Linked DNA regions of Homo sapiens. The protein of the gene in region 1 interacts with the protein of each later gene in a biochemical or structural test. Each region holds a gene or a part of one and is shown in the gene's direction. Other genes may lie near its edges. The genes, in order: SNTG2, DMD, VCPIP1 and DTNA.

Region 1 (7,027 bases):
GTCTCTGGATATCTTTATGGATGATGACTGTAGACAAGGCATTTAAGCTTCAGTTTTAATTTAGATCTGCTTCTCAAGATACCCCATGAGGCTCTGAGTGAGTTGGCAGAGGGGCTGGCATTGCAGTTCTCGGTGACAGAGGGTGTGTTTGCATCGCAGGCCTCCTATTTACTAAATGGGTATATTCAGGATAGACTTACTAAGCAGTGTGATTTTCTGGCTTTCCTGTTAGCTCATGTAGCATGTGACAGCAGGCACACGAGGGACCCCAAAGAGGAGCTGCTCTCAGGCTCTGCTGCGCACCCCTAGCTCCTGCGCTGCTGGGCATGGGGCGGACACAGGCAGGTGCTCGTGGAAATGGAGAAGGAAGGAGGGAGATCAGGGTTCCAGGGAACTCAGAGAACCCCGGCTTCGGGAACCACCATCCTCTCTGGCTCTGGCTTCTCACCTGTGGAATGTGTGCTTGGGTTCCGAAGGTCACTTTGTATCTGATTCCAAATCCCTCAGAAACTCACTCTTTAATTAGTTCTAGAGGTATTTTTGTTGAGTGAGACACAACAAGGAAGGTGGAAAACATGCTTTTGGAGGAAAAATGCACTCAGGATTTAATGGAAAATGGACCTTGAACTGGTGTGTACTTGTCATTGTTGTCCAGCTGGTTACCGCATGTTGTCATGACTGTAGTTTTGAATAGTCGACTTTGGATTATTTTCAGCTAACACTAGATGTCACTTTCCCCCAGTCCATACTAAAGTTCCCTGTAAAATTCAGGAAGCCGAGGTTATCCTTCCTATTTCTGTATTAAATGCTAAGCTCCCCTATGTGGGTGTAATCCCTCACCTGAGGACTGACCCCAGCCTGTGGCTCTTCATCCCCTGCCCCTCTGAACAAGAAGGCCCTCCAAAAGCTCACCCATTTCTGGCTGCCTTCCAGGGACCGTGCTGCTTCTTCACCCCATCAGCCTGAACCTTCCTGTTTTCTCCCCTTGCACATTTTAATAAATACTGTTAACAATGCTGTGAATATGAGGATGTGATTTTGCAATTAGAATTACATGTTAAAATAGTTTGCTTTTTAAGGAGTCTACATTTTTACATCCTATAAATATGATTATAAACTAGCTACATTTTAATTTAGCAAAGACTTTGGATTTAAGAAAGTGAGTATGCTTCTTATTTAGGGGATACTGTTCTAAACATTTGTAAAATGTAAAGTTATATTTTTAGTGCAAAAACTATTAAACTTCACAGTCTGCTAACTGCTAAACTGCTAAGTTTTAATTCTGTTTTATCTGTTATACTTTGTAAAGAAACTGCATGTCATTCACTTCTCTGGACTTGAAACCTAGATCAGTGCATGGCCTGTTATTTTGCAATAATCCGCATTAGTGTTAATGAAAAAGGTGACCCTCCACTGTCAAGATTCTGAGTATCAACTCTGGGAGTTACCAACATTCACTCGACATTTGGGTGAACATCATTTGATGATGGCACCGAATCGTGTTATTATAAAAACAATCACATAGAACATTAGAATCAAGTGTCCTAAATATCGTGCTTATTGGCCTCCATTTTATAAATTTACTTTTCCTCTTGTTTTTATTTGGACCCCAGCTCCAGAAGACAAACTTTCTTCTTGTACTCAGCCAGTGGCAGTGGTCTCTAAGTATGGACTGACCAGGAAATCACTGTAATTACTCCTACCTTCATCAAAATAGTTTAAATGACAAATCCTGTGCAAGAATTAAATTCCACTTCTGTAAACAATGCTTATAGTTGCAGATGTTTTATTGTGTAGTTCATAAATTATTATAGGTAAGGGCACAGCCATGGGGACGCACTCAGATTCCATGGAAGAATGTTTCTGTTCGTTGAGCGGGTGTTTAGAAAATAATCTGCATTTTTGAAGTGGGATACAGCTGCCAGTTGTTCTGAACAAAATCATCACTTATTTTGGATTTGGCAGCAAGTCCTCTAGCAAGTCCTCTCACTCCGAACAGGGAGGCCTCCCGTAGTCTGGGGTCCCAGCTACCCTCCTTTTAGAAGCTGGTGCCAGGGAGGCCAAGGGGCCCACATCTGCCACTGTCTCCGGCCCTGCCTCAGAGCCTTCCCTGCCCCTGCCCCTGCCCCTGCATCTGCATCTGCATCTGCCCTGGCCCCACCCACTGCCCTTGTGACTGTGCTGGCCCCTGCCCCTGCCCCTGCCCCTGCCCCTACCCCTGACCCTGACTTGTGCCAAATGCTCCGCACCTGCCCCTACCCCTGCCCTGCCCCTGCCCATGCCCTGCACCCACCGCGCCCCGCCCCTGCCCCTGCCCTGCACCTACCCCTGCCCTGCACCTACCCCTGCCCTGCCACTGCCCCTGCCCCTGCCCCGCCCCTGCCCCACCCCTGCCCCGCCCCGCCCCTGCGCCTCCCCCTGCCCTGCCCCTGCACCTCCCCCTGCGCCTGCCCCTGCTGGGCATTCTGCGCGGACCTTTCCAAAACTCCTCTCTGCAGCTCAGTCCGGAGCAGGGTTGTGTTCTGCCCTTCCCAGGCTGGAGCATAACCACTCACCCCGTGGCTGCATCCTTCCTCCCTCGGGCCTTCACACACCTTGGTTGGGCACGTGGAGCGCTGCCTGCCCTGGCCCAGGGCCTTTGCTCAGCTGCCTCTCCTGGAGGCTGCATCTCACCAGGCGCAGCACCTGCCCCCGCAACCCATGCCCCTTCCTGCGGAGGACCCGCTCCCCCAGGGCCCCGGCCCACCCGTGGCTGTGAATGGGCCCATCTCGGTCGGGCGTCTAGGAGGGAAGTGGCACCTGGGTCCCCTGCTGCTGTGAGCCCGTGGAGGGGCCGCTTTCAGAAGGACACAGCCCGGGGAACTCGGTTCTGCCCTGCTGCGTGGTAGCTGACCCATGTGTCAGTTGAGCCAATAAGTATATATCTGAATTAGATGTATGTGTTTCTATGAACTAGAGAGAAAGTTCCGTTTCTGGTTTTTGAACTGATAATTTATTTTGTATTTATGCCCAGTTTATTTGGATTTAAGTAAAATTGTGCTTTCATATTTTTAGAATAGCTATGTTTTGATTTTAATTTTTCACATCAGCATAAGTTTAATGGTAAATATAATTCTATTTCTCAGCTGTATCCTGCTCAAGATTATCCTTCATGACTTCTCTGCAGATAATTATATTTTACCAAATGGCTCTGTCAGTTTGCCTTTTTACATGATTAAGTTTTCTTTATGTACTGAGAAATATGAAATTACTTCTTATACCTAAACCTGGGGACATCCAGAACCCGATGAGTTAGATGCAGTGTTTTTAGAAACGTGTGCCAACTTGGTCATAGTTAGCATAGGTCATATGGTCTTGAAAGAAATCCAAGTCTGGTTTTATTCCTAAAACGATCATGGTCTGCAGCAAGGTAGATAGAGAAAGTCCAGCCTTTGTATTACCTCCTCAGAAACACTAGAAATTTTACCACCTCCCTGCTTGAGGGGGAGCAACGGATGGGGAACGGTGGTGGGAAGTAGCTCTGGGTCTCAGGCCTCCTTTTGAAAGTTGGGGGTTTGGCGATGATTAAGTGCCATTTGGAGAATTGCTTTATCATGATGCACCTTACGTACGTGCAGACACAGACACACAGAATTTAGAGAAGAATGATTGAGTACCTATTAATTGCCACACACTGAGCTGGAAGCTAAAGATAAAAATAGAGTAGAACACCTCTCAGACCAGGCCAGTGGGGCCCTGACTACCTGAGAGGCAAATTCTAGACAAGCAGACACGAAACAGCACAGGGCAGCTACAATGTGTTCCCTCTTCTATAGATGAGGTCGGGCAACATTTGTCTTCCGGCACATGGAAGGCGAGACTGGTACTGAGACTGAGACTGAGACTGAGACGGGAGAGATGCAGTCACAGGCCAGGGGCACCTGCAGCCACCAGAGCTAGAGGAGGCAGGAAGGAGGCTCCCTGGAGCCTCTGGAGGAATTTGATCCTGGACTTCTGGCTTCCAGAACTGTGAGAAGATAAATGTGCATTGTTTTAAGCCACTAAGTTTGAGGAAGTGTTGTCATAGCAGCCGTGGGAAGCTAATCAGTCTTTTTAGGTAAGTAATATAGCTTTTAGGGAATATCTTCTTAGAAATGTAGGGAATTTGAGCCCAGAACCCCCAGGTTAGAACTTACCTAATTGCTAACATCTACTAGGTACTAAGAGCTCTTTGGAGGGCTTCGTTCCTTTAACACCCCTGGGGTACTGCTGATGCTCCCCACCTACACATAAGACTGTAGAGACGGCAGGTGAGGTGTGGTCCGCATGGTGGCTGCAGCCCCTGGGCGTCTGACTGTGAGAGAGATGTCTCTATCCCACGTGCAAAGGCTGAGAAATGGCCCCAAATGCGTTTCCTTTAAGTGGTTATTGCTTGTGAGACAAAAGGATAACAACAGGAATTAGGAAATCAGAATCAGGAGGAATATACAACTGTTTTCTTATAACTGAGGTTGTCATACAAAATGGGAACAGGTTCATAAGTCGAGTAGATGGCAACAGCTCATGCAGCCCCTCCCCACACACATAGCAGTGAAATGATGTTGAGATCATGCAGAGTACTATGTGATATTCTCCAGATTTGGTGCTTCAAGATGGATTTTTCATAAAAAGACTCTGCAAAGATATGACATTTTATTGAAGCTGAACTAGCAGAAGCTTTGTCAATTACCTACACTGTAATTGCTTTAAAAAGGAAAAAAAAGAAAACCTCTAAAGTCACCATTATCTAAATTGGGGTTAAGAATTTGAAAGGTATTGAGAACATGAATTTGTAACCAAAATACATTATAATCTAAATAAATGGTCTTTTTTTTTAAAGTGGTTCATTTGAAATCCAGAGAGATATGAAAAAAATTGTGTGGACTTCCAAATTATTTTCTATTTTAGCTTTCTAGATGTAGTACAGTAAAATGTACTATTTCTTACATAGTTTAATATTTTGATGTTAGGAGTTATAGTATCAAACATGCCTTATGACAGTCAAAATTTTGGGATAGTACGATATCTAAAACAATGATGCTTGGGTAAGAGTTAAGAAATTAGAACCAAACTCTGAAACTGCTAATAACAAAAGGTAATAAAGGATAAGGACTCACACACAGATAAGACCACTTTTTCTCTGTATATAAAATACATTTGTTCTTTGTAGCAACAAAATGAAATAGAACAAATTGTAATATATTTTGTAATGTATAACACTTATATAAGGTTTAATTATATTTAAAAAATTCATTTCTATGTTGAATAATATTGTAAATTTAGTAATCGAATAAAGAGGAAAATCTAGTAGCTGAAAAAAGGAAGTAAACTGAAAGCTTTCCTATCAGAACAAGATACAAACCCACTAGGAAACAGCTGCATATGTGAATTACGTGCTTTGTAAGCGCTGGGATGTAAATATTCTTTTATGCAACTCTTCCTTATTGAATTGAGGAGAGGACCAGCACAGATCTATGAAAATGCTATGAGCTTTATGTATTGCAATTATTTTCTTCCAAAGCTTTATCAAATTTTGTCGTGACCTACAGATTCTTTTGGTTTTAATCAGGGTGGAATCAGAATGCTTTTAGATTTGTAATTTCCATGTTGGCAGGAGGAAGGGAGTCAGGGAGGCCTGGAGTCGGGGGGAGGTCCAGGGTTCAGCTGTGCTAGGGTCGCCTGGTGCAGGGGGCTGCCTGGGGGTGTGGTGTTCCCGCAGTGGGCTGTGCAAAGTCTCAGGGCGGCCTTTGCTTTACTGGCCTTGGGCTGAATGGAGAAGGTGAACGGAGCAGACCAGTGTCACAGAATTGCATCGTGCAGGCCTTGCCTTTGTGACCCGGGGCTGGAGGCTGCATCTCGGGTGCCGCTGTGCAGATGGAGGGAACCTTTGGGGATGTGATTTGAATCTTCCTATCCCCTTCTTTGGAGTAAATACATTTCCTTTATTCCTTTGATGTTTGTATGAATAGTGGCATGGTATCCGTATCTCAGTACTGAAAGTGAATATGAGATGGAAAAATACAAGGAAGGAAAGTTCCTGTGACCTGGTCTATACCTATCTAGCAGCTCATAGATTTCCTTCTGGCTTTTTCTGGTGTATATTCTGTAAGTTAAACTCATCCTCAAGATAGAATTTTCTATCCTGCTTTTTAGAATTCTCATTATAAAATGATAATTTTCATAGTTTGCTAAGAAATATCCATCAATTACCATCATCCCCCTGCTTAAGGTTCTTCTGTATCAGTGGAGAGGCTTCGGGCAGGTGTTCCCGTAGGAGGGGGCTCTGTTAATGACACGGTCCTTTGCCCTTCTGTCTGGAAAGCAGCACCTGTCCTTGCTGCACTGGCTCAGGCGTCTGTGACTAGGGTGACAGTGTTGCTTAGGAATCCCAGCTGATAGCCAGGCCTGTTCCCTGGTAGGATCCCACAGTGGGGAATGCTGGGCTTCTGGGCCCCACAGTTCTCCCGAGAGCTCGGGCTGCCTGTTCTCCTTTGTTCTCTCCTTTGTTGGGAATGCTTCAGTGCACGATGCTTTTCAGGGTAGGGTCATGTGTGCCTTATTTTCTCATCGGTGAGATTGGATTCCTGTTGTCTCCCAGGTGAGCCCTGGAACTCAGGGTTCAGCTGGATGCAGACAGAGGACTCTGCCCTCGTGGAGGAGCTGGGAGCACGGTGAGCTCTGAGGGTTCCGGGGCACGGCTATAGGTTCTGAAGGGGGTGCTCCTACTGCCTGCTCATGGGAGCACGGTGAGCTCTGAGGGTTCCCGGGCATGGCTGTAGGTTCTGAAGGGGGTGCTCCTACTGCCTGCTCATGGGAGCATGGTGAGCTCTGAGGGTTCCTAGGTTCTGAAGGGGGTGCTCCTACTGCCTGCTCATGGGAGCACGGTGAGCTCTGAGGGTTCCCACGCACGGCTGTAGGTTCTGAAGGGGGTGCTCCTAATGCCTGTTCATGGGAGCACGGTGAGCTCTGAGGGTTCCCGGGCATGGCTGTTGGTTCTGAAGGGGGTGCT
Region 2 (8,016 bases), on another chromosome or scaffold:
GCATATTGTGTGATGTGGAGGTTTGGGGTACTGATGATCCAGTCACCCAGGTAGTGAGCATTGTACCCAGTAGGTAGTTTTTCAGCTCACACCCGCTTCCCTCCATTCCCCCTCTAGTAGTCCCCAGTATCTCTTGTTCCCATCTTTATGTCCACTGTGTACTCAGTGTTTTGCTCCCATTTATAAGTGAGAACATGCGGTATTTGGTTTTCTGTTCCTGTGTTAATTTGCATAGGATAATGGCCTCCAGCTGCATTCATCTTGCTGCAAAGTACATGATTTCATTCTTTTTCATGACCATGCAGCTAACCAAGGAGGTGAAAGAACTATACAAGGAGAACTACAAAACACTGCTGAAAGAAATCAGAGACAACACAAATAAATGCAAAACATTTCATGCTCTTGGATTGGAAGAATAAATATTGTTAAAATGGCCATACTGCCCAAAGCAATTTACAGATTCAGTGCTAATCTTATCAAACTACCAACGTCAATTTTCATTTTTCATTTTCATTAGAAAAGACTAATCCAAATTTGTATGGAACCAAAAGAGCCCATAGAGCCAAAGCAATCTTAAGCTAAAAGAATAAAGCAAGAGGCATCACACTACCTGACTTCAAGCTATACTATAAGCCTACAGTAACCCAAACAGCATGGTACTGGTACAAAAACAGACCATAGACCAATGGAACAGAATAGTGAACCCAGAAACAAAGCGACACACCTATAACCATCTGATCTTTGACTAAGTCAACAAAAATAAGCAATGGGGAAAGGACTTCCTATTCAATAGATGGTGCTGGGAAAACTGGCTGGCCACATGCAGAAGATTGAAATTGGACCTCTACTTTTCATTATATACAAAAATCAACTGACGGTGAACTAAAGGTTTAAATATAAGACCTCATACTGTAAAAAATCCTAGAAGAAAACCTAGGAAGTACCCTTTTTTACATTGGTCTTGGCAAAGAATTTATGACTAAGTCCCCAAAAGCCATTGCAACAAAAACAAAAATTGACAAGTGGAACTTGACTAAGCCAAAGAGCTTCTGCAAAGCAAAAGAAACATCAACAAAGTAAACAGACGAAGAATGGGAGAAAATATTCACAAAATATGCATCTGACAAAGGCCTAGTATCCAGAATCTATAAGAAACTTAAATCAACAAACCAAATACAAATACATTCATTAAAAATGGGCAAAGTATATGAACAGACACTTTTTTTTTTTTTTTTGAGATAGGGTCTTGCTCTTAGTCCAGGCTGAAGTGCAGTGGCACAGTCTCGGCTCACTGCAAACTTCACCTCCCCTGCTCAAGCGATTCTCCAGCCTCAGCCTCCTGAGTGGCTGTGATGACAGGCGCCTGACATCACGGCTGTATTTTTTTTAGAGATGGGGTTTCACCATGTCGCCCTGGCTGGTCTTGAACTCCTGAGCTCAAAGCGATCTGCCTGCCTCAACTTCTCAAAGTAATAGAATTACAGGCATGAGCTAACACACCCGGCCTGAACAGACACTTCTTGAAAGAAGACATACAAGCGGCCAACAAGCATATAACATTTTTTAACAACGTAAACATTTTTAAATGTGCTTCTTTTTACAAACTGGCCGAGTGTGGTGGCTCATGCCTATAATCCCAGCTCCTGGGGAGGCTGAGGCAGGAGGATTACTTGAGGCCAGAAGTTAAAGACCAGCCTGCGCAACATAACAAGACCCTGTCTCTAAAAAAAATATTAAATTAGCTGAATATGGTGGCATTCACCTGTAGACCCAGCTACTCAGAAGATTGAGGCAGGAGGATCACTTGAGCCCAGGAGTTTGAGACTATAACGAGGTATGATTGTGTCGCTACACTCCAGCCTGGATGACAGAGCAAGCCTCCATCTCTTAAATGAAAATTTCTTAAAAAGCAAAAACAAACAGGAAAAGAACGGGTTTTGGAAACTCTGCTGTTTTCCTTTTTTTGTGCAATCACATGCATAACCGACAGTAGTGCCATTATATTAGAAATATTAATATATCTAATCACAACACAAAGCACTGTGTAAAAAAGCCGAGTATGATGAAATAAATTAAAGATAACCTAAATATTGGACATATGTACTATGTTAATGAATTGGAGGAATCAATGCGGTAAAAACATCAATTCTTCCAAAATGTATTCATAATTTTAATGCAATTCCTATCAAAATTCTACCTGAAAGATATTCTGTAGATAGATCTGTAGATCTATTTGTAGATAAACTTATTCTAAAATTTATATGGTAAATTATAACCACACTCTGGGACATGAATCTAGAGGAATGAAAAATGAAAAACTACATGATTGTTTTGCAGCTTTATTTGTAGTGACCAAACCCTGGAAACAACGAAAATATCCCACAGTATGTGAATAAAGTAACTATAGAACATCCATGCCATGAACTACTACTCAGCAATAAAAGGAAATAAGCTATTGATGACAACTTAAATGGATCTCAAGTACAGAATGCCAAAAAAAAAAAAAAAGCCAATCTCAAAAGGTTACATACCGAATCATTGCATTTATCTAATATTCTTAAAATGACAAAATTACAGTGATGGAGAACAAATTGATTGGTACCAGGCTTTAGGGATATTTAGGGAGGGTGACTGTTGTGACTGTAAAGGGGTAGCATGAGGCAAATCTCTGTGGTGATGAAACAGGTGTTTATTTGTGGAGGTTGAGGTTACACAAATCAGTGATGAAATAGAAATATGTATACATATCAATGTCAGTTTCCTGGTTTTGATACTGAATTGTAGTTATTGTAGGATACTGAATTGTAGTTATTGTAGTTAATCTTTGGGAGAAACTGGGTGAAGGGTACATGGGATCTCTGTATACTATCCCCGCAAATTCCTGTGAATCTATAAGTATTTGAAAATAACAAGTTAAAATAAATTTTTAAAAATTCTGTGACAGTTATTAAAAATGGAAATTTGAGCAAGTTCCTTTATTATGGGGCTAATAAGACCTACAAGATGTAGTTATTCTGAGGACTAAAGGAGAAAGATAAGTGATTAAGGGACACAAGAAAGTACTGTGGTGACACAGTCTGAACTGGAGTTCAATTTGTTCGGTCTAAATTTTATTTTACGTGCCTTTCACTTTTCCAGTTATTGTAAGCATATATTTGCACCTGGATTATAAAATCTTAAGGGAAGTATATGCATTCCACACAATGCAGAAATCATTATAGGTGCCAAATAAATTCTGATTATCAACTAAGGCTGAATGGCAATTAAATGTATCTCAGGGCATTCAGATCTATCAGGATTTGGTGCTTTAGACATTACCCAGGACACATCTTTGTTACATTTAGAACCACGGTTGTTTTTAGAAACATACACTTTAGGGTTTCTCAAAGTTGACCATGCATTAGAATCACCGGTAAAACACAGAGTGCTGTGTCCCAACCCCAGAATTTCTGACTTTTGAGGTCTCGTGTCAACTTGCATTTCTCAGAAGTTCCCACGTGATATTGATGTTGGTTTGGGACCGACAAGTTGTATTCACGCCTTGGCCTAAACAAGGGTTTATGTTTGTAGAAAACTCACAGTGCAAGATACAAAGGGCACTTATACTCTGGGCAATATTGTACCTCACAGCATAGAGGGACACTGATGCTAACATGCAGACTTAGAGCCAAATCAGCCCCAAAACAATTTTTTCATTTTTTCTATGTTGTTTTATGAAAATTTTGCTTATATGCATATTTAGACAACCACACTGAGAGGAAAGGAGGTGACCTAGGGAAAAGAATGTTTTAAATTAAAATTAGGCCTTATGTTTTATCTCATACACCTTTTGCTGGGGAAAATAGCAATGTTATGACAATAATATTCTAAAACACAAAATGTACAATTAACTATTAAGGTAAACATCACAGTCTGACTCAATATTTTTTTAATTTTTATCTATTACTCATTGCAGTCGCAAGCAGTTGAATGTTTGACATAGAAAAATGAGTCTGTCACTTTAACAAATGGTACAATAAAAACACTCAAACAAAAATTTTAGTAGGGATTATTATAACTATAAAAAGAATATCTTTCTTTAAAAAATGTTTCCAATGTTTTCTATCAATTTTGGGCTCGCCTGTTGCATAAAAGTAATAAGGAACAAGATGAAGAAGCTTTCTATTGGCAAAGAATGATTTACATGCTGAATGACATAATACAACTGTATTCACTTAATACAGAAAACAAGCCTCTATTCAGAACCATTAAATGATCATTAACTCAATGTCTAAAAAAATGGTGTTTTAAGAATTGGCACCAGAGAAATGGAAGAAAGAATAATTTGTTAGTAAAGAAGTTTTAGCATAATTCACAACTGAAATTTAGGATTTGAGAAAAATTTCTTTCCTGCATTATAAGAGTATTCTTTATTTTAGCAGGAAAACATGTCCCATGAGACCTATACACACACACATTCTGCCTTCAGAATTCAGCTGCTGCATTCTGCTGCTGCTTCTCTTATTCAGACTGTTGGCATCATCAATACATAACTTTTGATTGAATCCCAAGGGGAAAAAATAACTTTGGTAGACAGTGGATACATAACAAATGCATGGATTATTCTGGGCATTCCTTTTTATTTGGTAGAGTGAAATTTTTGGTGTTGTTGAGAGGATAAAAAAGGCATTTAAAAGTCAATTTTGAATCCGGATTTTCTGCTCTGTTAATAAATTCACATGAAAGTTACAGAAAGTATTGTTATGCTTTTGTACTGAATAGTTTTTGTGTTTAGAAGGCTTTAAAAGCAAGTACTATGTCCACTGTGCTATTCTGGTTTGGATATTAATCAGAACACAGTTGAGCATTGTTTGAATTCACAGAGCTTGCCATGCTGGAAGCACAACCTTATATGTAGTGACCATGGACAGTCCTATTATGGGAAACCAACTTGAGAGAGAAGGCGGGTCACTTGCTTGTGCGCAGGTCCTGGAATTTGAAATATCCGGGGGCCTCTACAGAATCCTGGCATCAGTTACTGTGTTGACTCACTCAGTGTTGGGATCACTCACTTTCCCCCTACAGGACTCAGATCTGGGAGGCAATTACCTTCGGAGAAAAACGAATAGGAAAAACTGAAGTGTTACTTTTTTTAAAGCTGCTGAAGTTTGTTGGTTTCTCATTGTTTTTAAGCCTACTGGAGCAATAAAGTTTGAAGAACTTTTACCAGGTTTTTTTTATCGCTGCCTTGATATACACTTTTCAAAATGCTTTGGTGGGAAGAAGTAGAGGACTGTTGTAAGTACAAAGTAACTAAAAATATATTTTACTGTGGCATAACGTTTAGTTTGTGACAAGCTCACTAATTAGGTAGATTGATTTTAAATTATCACAGTAGTTTGCAAAGAAGCATAAATGTTATATATACTGCATATATATATGTATTTATTCAGGAATATATATTTTTCATTGGGAAAACTTTTCAACAGAAATGGAGTGTAAAAGTTTTTCTTTGCGATAGAACTAAACACATGATTTCTTGATTAACAAACCACTGCAGTAATAGAATATGCAGAATGTCATTTGACTATAACAGATTTATTTTGATTGCTGTGAGATAGTTTGTATATCTGAGTTATTATTTTGATTAGTTGATACTTCCGTATTTAGTAACAGTTACATAAAGGTTACTGACCTGACATATATTCTCAATTGAACTAACTACTGTATAGGAACTACATGGAGGCCTAAAAGTTAGAAAAAGTTTCTCTGACACATCATGGATAAAATAAAGAATAAAATGAGTTGGGACGGATAATTGAAGGATGTGAAAAGTATTGATAAAGATTTAATTTTAATGTTTCTTACTCACATTTACTATTTCAAATGCTCTTTTCTGTAGCATATCATGATAATTATTTCAAATAATGATGTGATCTATGCTATCAAATGATCAGATGATTTCTTGGGTAAACGACATACAAACTTGAGGAACTCCTAATTATATTTAGTAGTAAAGTCACCTTGTTGTTTCATGTCTATTATGAGCCAGCTTTTCAGTTCAATTTTTTAGTTTGTCTTTCATATAGAAATACAACTATTTCGTTTATTTTTAAGAAAGTCATGATGACTAATGAAGGATTTAAAAATGGACTGTGGCACAACAGTAAAAATAATATATGATAAGGACTGTGTGTCCCGAAGAGATGGGAGTTTATCTCTTCCCCACCCATCTTTGACTTGTGGAGTGTAGTTATTCTAAAATAGATATGAGGGCAATGCCTATAATTAAGAATGAAAAAATAAATCTCTCCAAATAAGTAATGCTCCACAACTACTAAAAAAAAAGGCAGAAGTTTTGCCACTGGGAAAACTTTGTGGAAATAAGTTAACATTGTCCATGTATTGAGTCACATTAAAAGCTACCAGACTTTATAATACAATATTTACTTACATTGTTGGCTTGCTTCATAAATTTCTTTTGGTGGACATCATTATTACTTTTAGATTGAAAAACTATTATATTTACTATCATTACAAATATATGCATGGCATATATCTGTTGTTTGCAATATACACACACATTTTTATTTTTTGTTTTTATTTCTTTGATATATGTAACATAAATACCATCAAAATCACTAGTGATTTTATATATATATATATTCTACATAATTAACATCATATACAAGTATATAGAGCAATTTTGAAAGAATATATGCAATTCTGCTGAAATTAAGCAAGGTAAATCTACACTCTGCTTTGTCATAGATATTCAAATAACTTTCAATTCTTAGAATGCGAAGAAAGGTAATCTTTTTGGGACATGCCCTGTAGGATTTTTTCACGCTGCATTTAAAAAATCATCAAGTAATGCCTATGCAACATGACAATGAGTTTGGTAAGAAAAAACGGAGATATACTCAGGGCTATATTATACATTAAATTTTGCTGTTTGACAACATACTGCTACTTGGATGTTTGACATTTGAATCCAGTTTGTAAATTTGCCGTAGTTTGATAAACTTACAAAAGTACGTTTTGTTGTTTTTTAACCAAAACAGTTACCCTTTAAAAGAGATCACTGTATTGTCAAACATATTGTATTGTTCACTTTTAGAATTACTCAAATAATGCATTGTAAAGAATTATTCAAATAGTGTACTGCAAATAGACATTTCATTTGAATATATTTAAATGATGTAAGTCATCTGAGGTCTAATAAAATCACCTTTTAGAATTTCATCTGCAGAATCTTTTAAAGACATCTTAACTACGAAAAAGAGATTGCTGATCTAAATTGATGATATACTGTTAATACAAAGCTTTTGGTGTATCTTACATGACATAACATTATGAAAAATACAATAGAGTATGTCATATAGATGTTACTCTAAACTTTAAAAAAAGACTACAAAGTGTTCTATGCATAATTACATTATTTAAGGGGAAAAAGGTGTTGGCTGACACTATTCCAGCTAGACAGTACTGAATTGCAAATTCATCATTTGGGCACAGATATTAATACAGCTTCCTCTTTATTCCTATAGCATTCATTTGAAATCCCTGTACTCCATGTCATTTGCTACATATGAAACAAATTGTCAAGTTTTTAACCACTTGTGTAGTTTAATAAAAGAGATTAAAATCATTGTCTTGGAAACATCAGGTGTTTTTCAAAATTCTATTTTATTATCTTTCATCAAAATTTTATCTCAAGAGTAAAACAAAGTCATTTCCCAAACTTTCCTTCTCCTTCCACCTTCTATTGTAATATTTTCCTAACTTATTAAAAATGATTTATCATACTTTTTCATCAACTCTTTATTTCATCACACATACAAGAAACACAGTATTTTGGTATGAGTATATATATTTATATATATGCACATTTATATGCATTCAAATCACAGGGTATAAAGTTTCCTAAGAGGGTCTAATTAGAAATTAACCTTTCTTTAAAGATAATTTTCTGTTCATTTTTCTAAATTTTCTATTTTAAACACACATCATTTTTTAAGGAATTGACAAATGAGA
Region 3 (7,027 bases), on another chromosome or scaffold:
CTGATGGTATATCTTAATTGTAAATATAATACACTGAGTTTTCCTGTTATCTTTGGGGGAAAAGAAATCTGTAGCCATTGTAAGTTTTTAATTATATATTTCAGGAGAGAATTATTTTTAGTATTTTGAACAGTTGATAGATGTTAATAGGATTATTGAGTAACTATTAGGAAAATAGAAAGTTAAGGTAGTCCCTCAATAATAGTCAACAGATTATTTAAATATATCTTATTCTTGCAATTGCTTTTTAAAAAACAGACTTGTATTTATTTAAAGCGTTTTAAATTTTTTGGTAGGCTCTATTGATCCTGCCTACCTTGCCCCTTTTTCATTTATTTTTAATTTTTATTTTCCTGTATGTCATGTGATTTCAGCACTTCCTGTTTGATGAATTGCAGTTTCTGGTGTTTATATTCTCACTGCACTCCCACCTAGTAGTCTCTTACATTTCATTTTCTTCCTTTCCCAGTTCATCACATTTTTCTTTCTCATACACTAGGATTTGTATGTAAGTACACTAGGATTTGTATTTAAGTAATTTCACTACTCAAGTCTTTGCCATCAATTATAATGAACTGTTATAAGTTGTAGTTCATGAGAAACATAAACAGAGATGGATGGTAATGGTGTAAAGAAGTATTTGTTTTTAATCAGCATAAATTAAAGAAAAATATATTAACCAAATGTGTAATTTAAAGCTTTAGATGATTTGGGATACTGTTCAATGGTGTACTTTTTACAGTGTCTATATTTGCTTAGTCTTTGTTTTGAAATAACTTAGTATGCTTTACTAAGTCTTAAAGTATGAAGTAAAATTTAAATGTGTTAGTTACTGGAAGGGTTTTATTTTTGCTGAGATTAAAGCTTTCAACGAGAAAAGTCATCTGGGTTTTGATTCTGTTTTCTGATAGTACTATATGGCAGTGATTTGGGCCTTAATCTATCAAAATGAATACTACTCCTGGCTTATCTGGGGGAGTAGTAAATAGGGGATCTAAAAACCCTGCACAAATTTAGAACCCGGAATTGTTGATTTTAGTTTGCCAGACATAGTAATTGAATTGGGGAGTATGTCAGGAACTGTCCTACGCACTTTATATATTTCTTTTTTTTTTTTCTTTTTTTTTTGAGATGGAGTCTTGCTCTGTCTCCAGGCTGGAGTGCAGTGGCGCCATCTCGGCTCACTGCAAACTCCACCTCCCGGGTTCAAGCAATTCTCCTGCCTCAGCCTCCCAAGTAGCTGGGACTACAGGCCCACGCCTCCATGCCCAGCTAATTTTTGTATTTTTAGTAGAGACGGGGTTTCAACTTGTTGACCAGGATGGTCCTGATCTCCTGACCTTGTGATCAAGGTCACTTAAATACGAATGCTAGTGTACTTAAATACAAATCCTAGGTGGCCTGTGACTGTAATCCCAGATACTCTGGAGGCTGAGGCAGGAGAATCGCTTCAACCCCGGAGTTGGAGGTTGCGGTGAGCCTAGATCGCGCCACGGCACTCCAGCCTGGCGACAGAGCGAGACTCTGTCTCAAAAAATAAATAAATAAATGAATAAGTAAATAAATAAAAGACCTTCAATCTCCCAGGTCAAAAACAGGAAAGAGAAGATCTTCCTCAATAGAAGATGGACTCTTGAGAATGTGGCTCTTACCTTTATCCTTGTATGCACAGAACCTGATAATAGTGCTCAGCAGGTAGTATGCACTCTGAAATGTTTTTTAATTGAATTAAATAGATGACATTAACACAGCTAAAGAAAGGCTGTATCTGCAGAAATGGAATGGATGGTCAGTCAGCACTGAACATTGAAAAAAGTGAAAAGCAGAATTCGGCAATGTTCATATACTGCTGTACAAAGGAAAAAGGTACATCATCTGGGGTTCATGAAAATTCTGGTAACTAGAAAGGTAATCTCTGTCGAGGGGTAGGAATATTTGAACAATCCTGACTGTGGCCTGGCTGAAACATCTCTATCCCTTTGCCTGATTTCCATGTTCATCAGGCATCTATTCGTAACACTTATTTAGCTTCCTGATAACAAGTTTTGATGTACAGGTGACAGTGCAGATAAGGACGTGTTCACTTTGAAAGCTGTATTCTCCATTGTAGACTAATAAACGGACATGGGCAGGATTATGATCAGTAGTCTTAAAAATATGATCAGAGCCAGTCACGGTGGCTCATGCCTGTAATCCCAGCACTTTGGGAGGCTGAGGCGGGCAGATCACGAGGTCAGGAGTTCGAGACCATCCTGGCTAAGATGGTGAAACCCTGTTTCTACTAAAAATACAAAAAAAAAATAAGCCGGGTGTGGTGGCAGGAGCCTGTAGTCCCAGCTTGTCAGGAGGCTGAGGCAGGAGAATCTTGTGAACCGGGGAGGCAGAGGTTGCAGTGAGCCGAGATCGTGCCACTGCACTCCATCCTGGGCGACAGAACAAGACTGTATCTCAAAAAAAAAAAAAAAATCTGATCGGTATGATTATATATAGATTTTTGAGACAGAGTCTCACTCTGTCGCCCAGGCTGGAATGCAGTGGCGCGATCTCAGCTCATTGCAACCTCTGCTACCTGGGTTCAAATGATTCTCCTGCCTCAGCCTCCTGAGTAGCTGGGATTACAGGCATGTGCCACCACACCTGGCTAATTTTTTTGTATTTTTAGTAGAGACAGGGTTTCACCGTGTTAGCTGGGATGGTCTCAATCTTCTGATCTCATGAACCGCCCGCCTCGGCCTCCCAAAGTGCTGGGATTACAGGCGTGAGTCACTGTGCCTGGTTGATAATATATTTCATAATGAAAATTAATCAAATATAATTCTGGTGTATAAATACTTTCTGAGTTTGGTTGGAGGTTCTTGGACCTGAATATCTGAGAGAACCTAGAGTATGGACTGCAATGAGTTCACCAAGATAATGTCTTTCTATTCTGATCCCTTCCCTCTTCATATCCAGCATTTATGCCTGTATAAACCCACAAATTTCTTTAAAACTTCTTCCACTACCAACACAAAATTTGGGTGTAAAAGAGAGCATTGTGTTACTTTTGTAATGATATCACTTGAGATACTTTCTGCTTTAAATTGAAGTATTAAGTGCATAGCCTGTATTATATTAGTCCCTTATAAATCTTAGTTTTCTTCCTCTAGTTCGCTTATGACTGTATTTGAATTATGTAGAAGATTTTTTTTTTGAGACAGAGTCTCGCAGTGTCGCCAGGCTGGAGTGCAGTGGTGCGATCTCGGCTCACTGCAACCTCTGCCTCCTGGGTTCAAGCAATTGTCGTGCCTCAGCCTCCCAAGTAGCTGGGATTACAAGCACGTGCCACCACACCCAGCTAATTTTTGTATTTTAATAGAGAGAGAGTTTCTCCATGTTGGTCAGGCTGGTCTTGAACTCCCGACCTCAGGGGATCCGCCCTCCTCGGCCTCCCAAAGTGCTGGGATTACAGGCATGAGCCACTGCGCCTGGCCGAAGATATTCTTAATTTAAAAAAAAAGATGTTCCTACAAAATTCAGTTTGGGGATAAATACTAACCATATGTAAAGAGTACTGGGGAACTGTTGATGTTTAGATTGGAGAGGACTAGAAAATGACAGAGCTTGTTTAGAAGATTACAGATTTCAAAGTGCAGAAATTACTTTGTGAATTACCAAATGTGAGCTAAGCTGTGTTATGTTAGTTTAGAATATAGCTCATCAGACTTTATGCTGTTCAAATAGCTGGTTCTTTCTCGTTTAAGTTTAGGCTTAAATACCACCACCCTGTAAGGGTTTGAGAAAACTTTGCTGACCATTCTAAGTAGGTTCCCTCTATCAGTGTACCCTGTTGATGTCCCTCACGGCATCTATCACAATTTTTAATAATCTTATTTGTTGGTTTAATTATTTGTTTGCCTCCCCCACTATATTATAAAGTCCATCAAGACAGAGACTGAACCCTATTTTCTTCACTAATCAATACCTTATTTCCTAGTTCAGGGCCTGGCACATAGTAGGTACCAAGTAAATGCTTGTTGGATTAATGAATGCAATTATTTCAGCAAAATCAGTGTATACTATGAACTTGTATGTATGTTGAGTGTACAAAGATAAATGAAAGTCAGTGCTTGCCCTCCATTAACTTACCTGCAGGCTTTCAGCTGAAGGAGTTCCATACTTTTTAGCTTTCATCAGCAGATCTCCAGCTTTATTTTCTAAATACATAAAAATTATAAAATCCCCAAATAGGACCAACACAGCATTTTAGAACTTCTCATTTGATTAAGAATCAAATATATACATGGGGATTGTATATTTTCTTTCTTTTTTTTTTCTGGAGACAGATTGTCGCCCAGCCTGGAGTGCAGTGGTGTGATCCCAGCTCACTGCAACCTCTGCTTCCTGGGTCCAAGTGATTCTCAACCTCTCAAGTAGCTGGGACTACAGGTGCGCACCACCACGCCCAGCTAATTTTTTGTATTTTTAGTAGAGATGGGGTTTCGCCACGTTGCCCATGCTGGTCTCGAACTCCTGAGCTCAGACAATCCACCGCCTCGGCTTCCCAAAGTGCTAGGATTACAGGCGTGAGCCACTGCACCCGGCCTGTATGTTTTCACTAAATGGGCTGACTGCATGATAGCCAGGGACATGAGCTTTTTCTTTCATTTTTAAGTAGGATATTCATTGATTAGATCGTCTATTACTTATATTAATAAAACAATAAGTAGGTGTATTAGTCTTTGGCTTAGTACAAGTCATTCATGGAACCTAGTAACTTTGAATCTTAGGAACTATAAAATGGAATAACAATATTTTACCCATAATATTTTACATTTTTAATCTCTTTTATCCAGACCACAAAGTAATTGAACTTAATTTTTTGCAGACAGTCATCTTCATTATTTATATAATACTTAAAAGACTAACTCTGGCTTTGCAAAATATGTCATTCAGATTTCTTGTAGACCTGGTGCGGTTGCAGTGAGCCAAGATTGCGCCACTGCACTCCAGTCTGGGCAACAGAGCAACACTCTTTCCAAAAAAAAAAAAAAAATTTCTTGTAGATCAGTTATTTGTAGGTTTTCTTTCATGGTAGACAGGATAGGTGGTACATTATCCACCATAAATATTTGGGCTAATTTATTTTTTCTTAGTGTTATATTTCATTAAGTTTCTAGTTTTGTTTGTTTTTTTGTTTTCCTAGAGGTAAGGACAGATTTAGGTGAAGAACAGAATTTGTCAGTTTGGAGTTACTTAAATGAAATTAGGCTACATGACACTTCCTTGCTTTACTACAAAGTGTACCAACCTTTCAGGAGTTGAGAAACTTGTTTCATTTTGATATACTTTCTCTGTTCCTGAAAGAATTGTGTGGCTTTTTAACGTATATATATATTTAAAATACACAATATTTTGTAATTTCATAATACCTCTTGATGTCGTAAATGCCTTAGAATTTTCCAGAATCGGCTGGGTGCGGTGGCTCACGCATTTAATCCAGCATTTTGGGAGGCTGAGGCGGGTGGATCATGAGGTCAGGAGTTTGAGACCAGGCTGGCCAAGATGGTGAAACCCCGTCTCTACTAAAAATACAAAAATTAGCCGGGCATGATGGCGCTCGCCTGTAATCCCAGCTACTCAGGAGGTTGAGGCAGGAGAATCACTTGAACCCAGGAGGCGGAGGTTGTAGTGAGCCAAGATCATGCCATTGCACTCCAGCCTGGTGACAGAGTGAGACTCTGTCTCAAAAAAAGAAAAAAAGAATTTTCCAGAATCACGCTTGGGACTGAGACACTTATTTTTTAGGTGACAACTGAATATTATTATTGCACCTTTTTTTTTTTCAAATGTTGGGTAAAGGGCAGTTTCAAATCTAGATAGTACTTATGCATATTCTTCTTTTTTTTTTTTTTTTTCCCCAAGATGGAGCCTTGCTCTGTCGCTCAGGCTGGAGTGCAGTGGTGCAATCTCGGCTCACTGCAACCTCTGCCTCCCAGTTTCAAGCGATTCTCCTGCCTCAGCCTCCCGAGTAGCTGGAATTACAGGCGCCTGCCACAACACCTGGCTAATTTTTGTATTTTTAGTAGAGACGGGGTTTCACCATGTTGGCTGGGCTGGTCTCGAACTCCTGACCTCGTGATCCGCCCACCTGGGCCTCCCAAAGTGCTGGGATTACAGGCGTGAGCCACCGTGTCTGGCTGCATATTATTATTCTTTCTATGCCTTCTGATAGCCCTTCTGTTGATTTATATGTAGCATACTTGTAATGGGAGAGCAGTTATAAAGTTGAATAAAAAATAATGCATAGGTGTATCTTAAGATAAATGTATATATTGTAAATGGTGATTTTATATAATTATACTTTGAAAATTAAGTCAAATATTGATGTTATTCCTTTCTAGATAGAAAAGGAAATCTAGATAATAATAGATTCTGTTCCAACTACTTTGATCACTTTTATTTTAAATATTTTTTCAATTACAATATAATGTTTAAAATTCAAATAATTCAAGTACCTATAAAATATGGTAGTTCTTAACATTTGTACTCCCCAGATAAAATCATTATTAATAAATTGGGATGTGTCCTTTCAGACTCTGTACACATTTAAACACTGTTGAGTTTGTGTGCATGTCTGTGTATGATAAAAATATTCATTAATGCTGCTGGTGACACTAAAGTTGTGTGACTATATACCGTTAAGGGGACTGAATTTCAGGCAAGAAACAGATATGCCTTTTTTATAAACCATTTTGACTATCAATAGGGTAGATAAACTTTTAAACGTGAGGATTACGTCAGGAAGGGTAGAGAGATGCCAACAATTCTTTCAGCAAATGAATACCTTTACCTTTGGAATTCTGTCTAGTTGAAACAGTCCTGTGTTCCTACTTTATATTTGGAACCATTTATTCAAATTATTAAAAAATTTTGAATTGTTTCTTTAAATTTTAAATTTAAATAAACAAGTACTTCATTTTATGGTCATAAATAGTTGAGTTCAGAGTTCGTTTTGGGTGTTTCTTTTGGGGCTTTAAAAATACATTTT
Region 4 (7,027 bases), on another chromosome or scaffold:
ATGATTCTCAGAAATTAACCCTCAAATTTAATTAATTATGTTAATAGCATTTATAAGTCACTAGGAATAGAGGTGCTTGGTATGTTATTATCAGACTTTATTATAAAATATCTTGGTTTTGTTCAATAAGCGATAGAGGCTGTCATCAAAAATGATTAAACTTAGATATGCAGCGTTATTTCTGAGGGCTCTGTTCTGTTCCATTGATCTATATCTCTGTTTTGGTACCAGTACCATGCTGTTTTGGTTACTGTAGCCTTGTAGTATAGTTTGAAGTCAGGTAGTGTGATGCCTCCAGCTTTGTTCTTTTGGCTTAGGATTGACTTGGCGATGCGGGCTCTTTTTTGGTTCCATATGAACTTTAAAGTAGTTTTTTCCAATTCTGTGAAGAAAGGCATTGGTAGCTTGATGGGGATGGCATTGAATCTGTAAATTACCTTGGGCAGTATGGCCATTTCCACGATATTGATTCTTCCTACCCATGAGCATGGAATGTTTGTATCCTCTTTTATTTCCTTGAGCAGTGGTTTGTAGTTCTCCTTGAAGAGGTCCTTCACATCCCTTGTAAGTTGGATTCCTAGGTATTTTATTCTCTTTGAAGCAATTGTGAATGGGAGTTCACTCATGATTTGGCTCTCTGTCTGTTGTTGGTGTATAAGAATGCTGATCTTTGACAAACCTGAGAAAAACAAGCAATGGGGAAAGGATTCCCTATTTAATAAATGGTGCTGGGAAAACTGGCTAGCCATATGTAGAAAGCTGAAACTGGATCCCTTCCTTACACCTTATACAAAAATCAATTCAAGATGGATTAAAGACTTAAACGTTAGACCTAACACCATAAAAACCCTAGAAGAAAACCTAGGCATTGCCATTCAGGACATAGGCATGGGCAAGGACTTCATGTCTAAAACACCAAAAGCAATGGCAACAAAAGACAAAATTGACAAATGGGATCTAATTAAACTAAAGAGCTTCTCCACAGCAAAAGAAACTACCATCAGAGTGAACAGGCAACCTACAAAATGGGAGAAAATTTTCGCAACCTACTCATCTGACAAAGGGCTAATATCCAGAATCTACAATGAACTCAAACAAATTTACAAGAAAAAAAACAAACAACCCCATCAAAAAGTGGGCAAAGGACATGAACAGACACTTCTCAAAAGAAGACATTTATGCAGCCAAAAAACACATGAAAAAATGCTCACCATCACTGGCCATCAGAGAAATGCAAATCAAAACCACAATGAGATACCATCTCACACCAGTTAGAATGGCAATCATTAAAAAGTCAGGAAACAACAGGTGCTGGAGAGGATGTGGAGAAATAGGAACACTTTTACACTGTTGGTGGGACTGTAAACTAGTTCAACCATTGTGGAAGTCAGTGTGGCGATTCCTCAGGGATCTAGAACTAGAAATACCATTTGACCCAGCCACCCATAAATCATGCTGCTATAAAGACACATGCACACGTATGTTTATTGTGGCATTATTCACGATAGCAAAGACTTGGAACCAAGCCAAACGTCCAACAATGATAGACTGGATTAAGAAAATGTGGCACATACACACCATGGAATACTATGCAGCCATAAAAAATAATGAGTTCATGTCCTTTGTAGGGACATGGATGAAACTGGAAATCATCACTCTCAGTAAACTATCGCAAGAACAAAAAACCAAACACCGCATATTCTCACTCATAGGTGGGAATTGAACAATGAGATCACATGGACACAGGAAGGGGAATATCACACTCTGGGGACTGTTGTGGGATGGGGGGAGGGGGGAGGGATAGCATTGGGAGATATACCTAATGCTAGATGACGAGTTAGTGGGTGCAGCACACCAGCATGGCACATGTATACATATGTAACTAACCTGCACAATGTGCACATGTACCCTAAAACTTAAAGTATAATAATAAAAAATAGAAAAAAAAATGATTAAACTTATCAAGAATTGTACAATGTGTGGGTCAGTATCTGACAGGAAAAATGCAAACTCATTTCTAGGAAAGAACAATTAGTTATATTTTTAGTATATAAAGGGGCAATTAACTGGTCTTCACTTCATGGTATTATTAGCTGGATATTTTAGAGTGGTATTACTATAATAATTCCCCACTCTCAAACACACATGTTATGAAATGTTCACTAGACACCATTTCAATATTTTAATTGTTTTTAATTTTTTAATTATTTATTTTAAATAAACAATATTTTATATCTGAAACCTGTTAATTTTGATTTGTTTGGTGGAACATTTACTCAGAAAAATTACTTACCTCTACACATCCCTGACATGAAAGAAAATACTGGATGGATTGGCAATTCCAGTATAAAATATGGATCTATGAAAGTAGTGAAAGAAAATATAGAACTTATGATAGAAAAGGATGACCTCAAAGACAAAAATCATAAAGGAATGGTAATATGAAAACTTACTCCTTCTAGAATATGTTATATACAAAATTAAAAAGATAAATGGCAAATTAGAAACAACATTTGCAACATATATGAAAGAGAAAAAGTGAATATCCATGTTATGTAATGAGGTCTCATAAATCTGTAAGAAAAAGCACTTCCCTTTTAATTTTAAAAATATCTACAAATTAAACACATGTCATTTTAATAATTAGCAACTATTTTTTAAAGGGGAAAGCAAAAGGAGGAAGGGGGAGATAATGTCTGGTTTAGGAAAAGTCTGGAAAATGGGAACACATATACACTGCTATCATATAGCAGTGTACACTGGGTGCAGGTGGGGAGTTGATCAAGCTGGCAATGTGTAGCAAAGTCTTTAAAAATTGCATATCCTTGGGCCCTACAGTTCTACTACTAGGAATATGTCCTAACAAAATAAATAGTCTAACGTATTTACATAGTTTTTCGTTGTTTCAGACAATAGCAGTCTGAAAAAGAAAATCCAAGAAATATAGAAAACACATGAGCTCGTATTTCCTCTCTAGAAGCTATAAAGCTGTAAGAAGTCGGCCGGGCACCGTGGCTCACACCTGTTATCCCAACACTTTGGGAGGCCGAGGCGGGTGGATCGCCTGAGATCAGGAGTTGGAGACCAGCCTGGCCAACGTAGTGAAACCCCATCTGTCCTAAAAATACAAAAAATTAGCTGGGCGTGGTGGCAGGCGCCTGTAATCCCAGCTACTTGTGAGGCTGAGGCAAGAGAATCGCTTGAACCCAGGAGGCGGAGGTTGCAGTGAGCCGAGATCACACCATTGTACTCCGGCCTGGGCAACAAGAGTGAAACTCCATCTCAATTAAAAGAAAGAAAGAAAAAAAGCTGCAAGAAGTCATAGACATGGCTATATGCTGGTCTAACTGTTGACTTCCCAACTCTTTAGATGGAACATGTATAGGCAACATGGTGTAGAAAAAGAGTCTTGGCTTAAGAATTGGAATGCCTGAATCATGCTACTAACTAGCTGAGTTAATATAAATATGCAAATTTATGAAATTATTAAAATAATAATGTTAAAGAGTAGAAAAGTCTGTGAATCCCTTTACCCATGTATATGTGTTTGTCTTCACCGCTGATTTGCAAATAAGAAGTCTCATATCAAGTGGGAAGGGTAGATTTTTATAATTTCACTGAAATTCAATACCAAATGGTAAAATCTGGAATGCCTTGACTGTGAGAGAAAATAACAAAATATTTTAAATAGGGTATACATTCCAATTATTAGTTTTTGAAATTTATTCTAAAGAAATTTCTGCTCATATAAGGATGGGCAGAGGATAACTGGGCTTGAATAACTGGGCCACACCTACATTTAGGTGTGGTGGAGAGGCAGAGCTCCAGAGCAATCTGTTCAAAATTCTGTGATGCTGGAAATGCTCTATATCTTCTTAGTCCAATATAGTAACTACTAGCCACATGTGGCTATTAAACACTTGAAAGGTAGCTAGTGCGACTGATGAAACAGATTTCAAATCTTATTTAATGCTAAGTAATTGAAATAGCCACGTGTGTCTAGTGCTATCTTAATAGACAGTGACACTCTAGAATTAAGCACAACAAATAGGGTCTTTTATTTAATATCGGAGGTTAATTTCAAGCACCTCTGCTAAATTCGGATGATATAGATAGGACAAGAAGGTGAGTATTCTTTGTGCAATTTCCCTTTTATCTACAGAAATACAGATCAATGAAATCCTTTGATTCTAGTGACTGCAAGTCCAAGATTTTCCAGAGAAGTGTTGGTCTCAAGTAGTCTGTAGTTTTGTTTGCTTAAGAATTTTAATGCTCATTCATTTTCTCATTTATTTTTTTTAAAAAACCTTATATTGAATATATTTGTGTTGGACACTGACATTGAAAAGATAGTAGTAGTGCAGAGTTCCTTGATTCAGGAAATCCTTGGAGTATCCTAAGGAGTAAATGGTGCAGAGCAGATATTACAGAGGAGGGGAGAGAAAATGCTGTGTGGAGAAGGAAGCACTGGGATAAACCTTAAAGAAATGGCCAGTGTTCAATAGGAAGCTGGGGAAAGGAGGATCTTGAGAAACAGAACAGTATGGGAAAACCAGGGAGAGATGAGAATCAGAAATGTCTGGAAATGTAATAATGGCAGCAGCACAGAAAATAGACTAGTGTGTAGACAGAAATGAGTCCAGAAGTTAATGTTACAATCCAGAACAAGTATGAGGGAGGTTATGAGCTAAGGGGATGAAAGTAGAATTTAAAAAGAGTAGATTTGAGAGGTGTTTTGTCTGTTGCTTCTCTTTACAATAAGTCAGGTAGAGAACAACTGATTTATCTTTTAAGCCCCCTTGAAAATTGTCGATTACTGCATACAATGCTGGAGCAGGATTTTTGTGGCCAAGGAAACTGAGCGTATCTTACAATATGCAAGTTTTTCAAACAGGACCAACTTACATAAATCATCCTCTTGGAAGTAGGCGCAACTACATCATGTATGTAGTTGAAATGTATGACACATGACAATTTTGTTTGGGGATGTAATGTAACTGAGGTGGAAACTTAATATTTATGAGACTTCCTCTTTCGTTAAAATCTTAACATTCTTTGATTTTGACAAATAGTGTTTTTATTTCTTCCAAAAATACAAGAATTTTAAAAGTATATAATTAGGCATCGTTTAGAAAGGTCAAAAAAGCAATCGTCTGTTGAATTTATGATTTGGGTACATTATTCTTCTCCAGTCTTTACCCCATTTTGATGGACTTTTTTCTCTTGGCAGTATATCCAGGTTCATTTATAGGTGGGAAGACAGTAGAAGCTGTTATTCCAGCATCAAAGCCCCCACTGTTTTCTAATAAGACGTTAGGTTTTATTTCTTCCAAAGCCTTATGATCACTGCAGTCAAAAAAAGAAGGGTGGAAAATGCAGAAAAATGGTGGAGGAGGTGGAGTATGGTCTTGGTCATAAAGAAATGAAAGGAGAAAGGTATTACTGAAGAGTATGGGCATTAGTCTGACTGTAAGGAGGACTTTGGCAGTAACTACAAGCCAGAGTGAGTGAGGAAAGAATAGCAGCCATTTGGGCAATGTGCTGACCATGTGTGGCTTGATACTAGGAAACCTGAACATACAGCAGGACAGAGAGGAGCACATCATGTGAGAGTTCCATGAGTTCTCGGATTTAAGAAAATAGAAGACTTTCTAAGTGCCAGATACTGTTCTAAGTACTTTTTGTTTAACCTATTTAAGGCAATTAACCCTTTTTTTTTGGAGAACAGTCATAGAACATGGAAATCACTGAAGAAATGTAAGTAGTGGTGGGATGCAGTGGCTCACGTCTGTAATCCCAGTACTTTGGGAGGCTAAGGTGGGTGGATCACCTGAGGTCAGGAGTTCAAGACCAGTCTGGCACCAACATGGCGAAACCCCGTCTCTACTAAAAATACAAAAACAAAACAAAAACTAGCCAGGCATGGTGGTGTGGGTCTACTGTAGTCCCAGCTACTCAGGAGGCTGAGGCAGGAGAATCACTTGAACCAGGGAGGTGAAGGTTGCAGTGACCCCAGATCGCACCACTGCATTCTAGCCTGGGTGACAGAGTGAGACTTCATCTCAAAAAATAAAAAAATAAAAAAATAAGTAGTTATTATCTCTCCATCAATCCTCACAACAACCCTATGAGCAGGGTACTTTTACCATCTTTATTTTACAGATGAAGAAATTAAGGCCCGAGAGGTTAAGTAATCCCCCAAACAGCATACAGTTAATCAGAGAGAGCTCTATTTAATCAGCTCAACTACTACGCCATCCTGCCTACTCTTAATCTATGTTAATTTTATAATATGTACAGAGATGATACTTGTAACGTGCTCACAAAGTGCCTGACATATAGTAAACCTGCAAAAATGTTAGCAATTATCATTATGTAATAAGATTTAGAAGACTTTCCGGTATTTATGTCATTCTACACCGACACTGCTCAGAAATAGTAACAAGATTTTTAGGGCAGCTCTGGATTTTTCTTATGTAAAGTGTAAAGAAAGCTTTGTTTAGGAGCATGCCCTTATAAATTGGAGAAACTCTTCTTCTACCCAAATACTGTCAATCAGTTTGACTGGCACAGTTGAAGTTTTTACCTCAAAGAATGGGCCTCATTGAAATGTTCTATATACTCATCTACATGGCTCTGACCTTCTGACAGAGAATGACTGCTGCTAATGGTACTAATAAGAGCAAATGGAATTCCCTTCCAAGCTTGGTATTTGAATAATATGTCAATTTGTTCATTGCCGTCTTACTAGGAATTAAATGCGCTAATATTTTTATAACCTAAGGGAGCTAGTGCGAGGTTGGCAGCCAGAAAAGGGAATCAGGCCAGAGGCTGGCCAAGGCATAGTCATGAGGGGGTGGAAGGGTCACAAAGTCAAAGTCAAGCAGGTGGACCCAGGCAGAACCCAACCAGACTCTAGAACAAAGTTAGGTTCAAAGTTTGGTTCTTATCTCCTTTCCCTATAATGTGGGCTGGTAGGGGTGGGTTGATTGTCATCCTCTGTACAAAAAGAATTGTATGGAAAATT

The links.
Region 2: the proteins of SNTG2 (region 1) and DMD form a complex in vitro, tested with the Homo sapiens proteins (one study listed by BioGRID).
Region 3: the proteins of SNTG2 (region 1) and VCPIP1 form a complex in vitro, tested with the Homo sapiens proteins (one study listed by BioGRID).
Region 4: the proteins of SNTG2 (region 1) and DTNA form a complex in vitro, tested with the Homo sapiens proteins (one study listed by BioGRID).

The regions. Positions count from the first base shown.
Region 1 is NC_000002.12:953,847-960,873, forward strand, and holds part of SNTG2 (gamma-2-syntrophin), read left to right. Parts: intron 1-7,027. UniProt on the Homo sapiens protein: Adapter protein that binds to and probably organizes the subcellular localization of a variety of proteins. May link various receptors to the actin cytoskeleton and the dystrophin glycoprotein complex.
Region 2 is NC_000023.11:33,208,543-33,216,558, reverse strand, and holds the start of DMD (dystrophin), read left to right. Parts: upstream 1-5,009; 5' UTR 5,010-5,246; coding exon 5,247-5,277; intron 5,278-8,016. UniProt on the Homo sapiens protein: Anchors the extracellular matrix to the cytoskeleton via F-actin. Ligand for dystroglycan.
Region 3 is NC_000008.11:66,657,205-66,664,231, reverse strand, and holds part of VCPIP1 (deubiquitinating protein VCPIP1), read left to right. Parts: intron 1-7,027. UniProt on the Homo sapiens protein: Deubiquitinating enzyme involved in DNA repair and reassembly of the Golgi apparatus and the endoplasmic reticulum following mitosis. Necessary for VCP-mediated reassembly of Golgi stacks after mitosis.
Region 4 is NC_000018.10:34,713,280-34,720,306, forward strand, and holds part of DTNA (dystrobrevin alpha), read left to right. Parts: intron 1-7,027. UniProt on the Homo sapiens protein: May be involved in the formation and stability of synapses as well as being involved in the clustering of nicotinic acetylcholine receptors.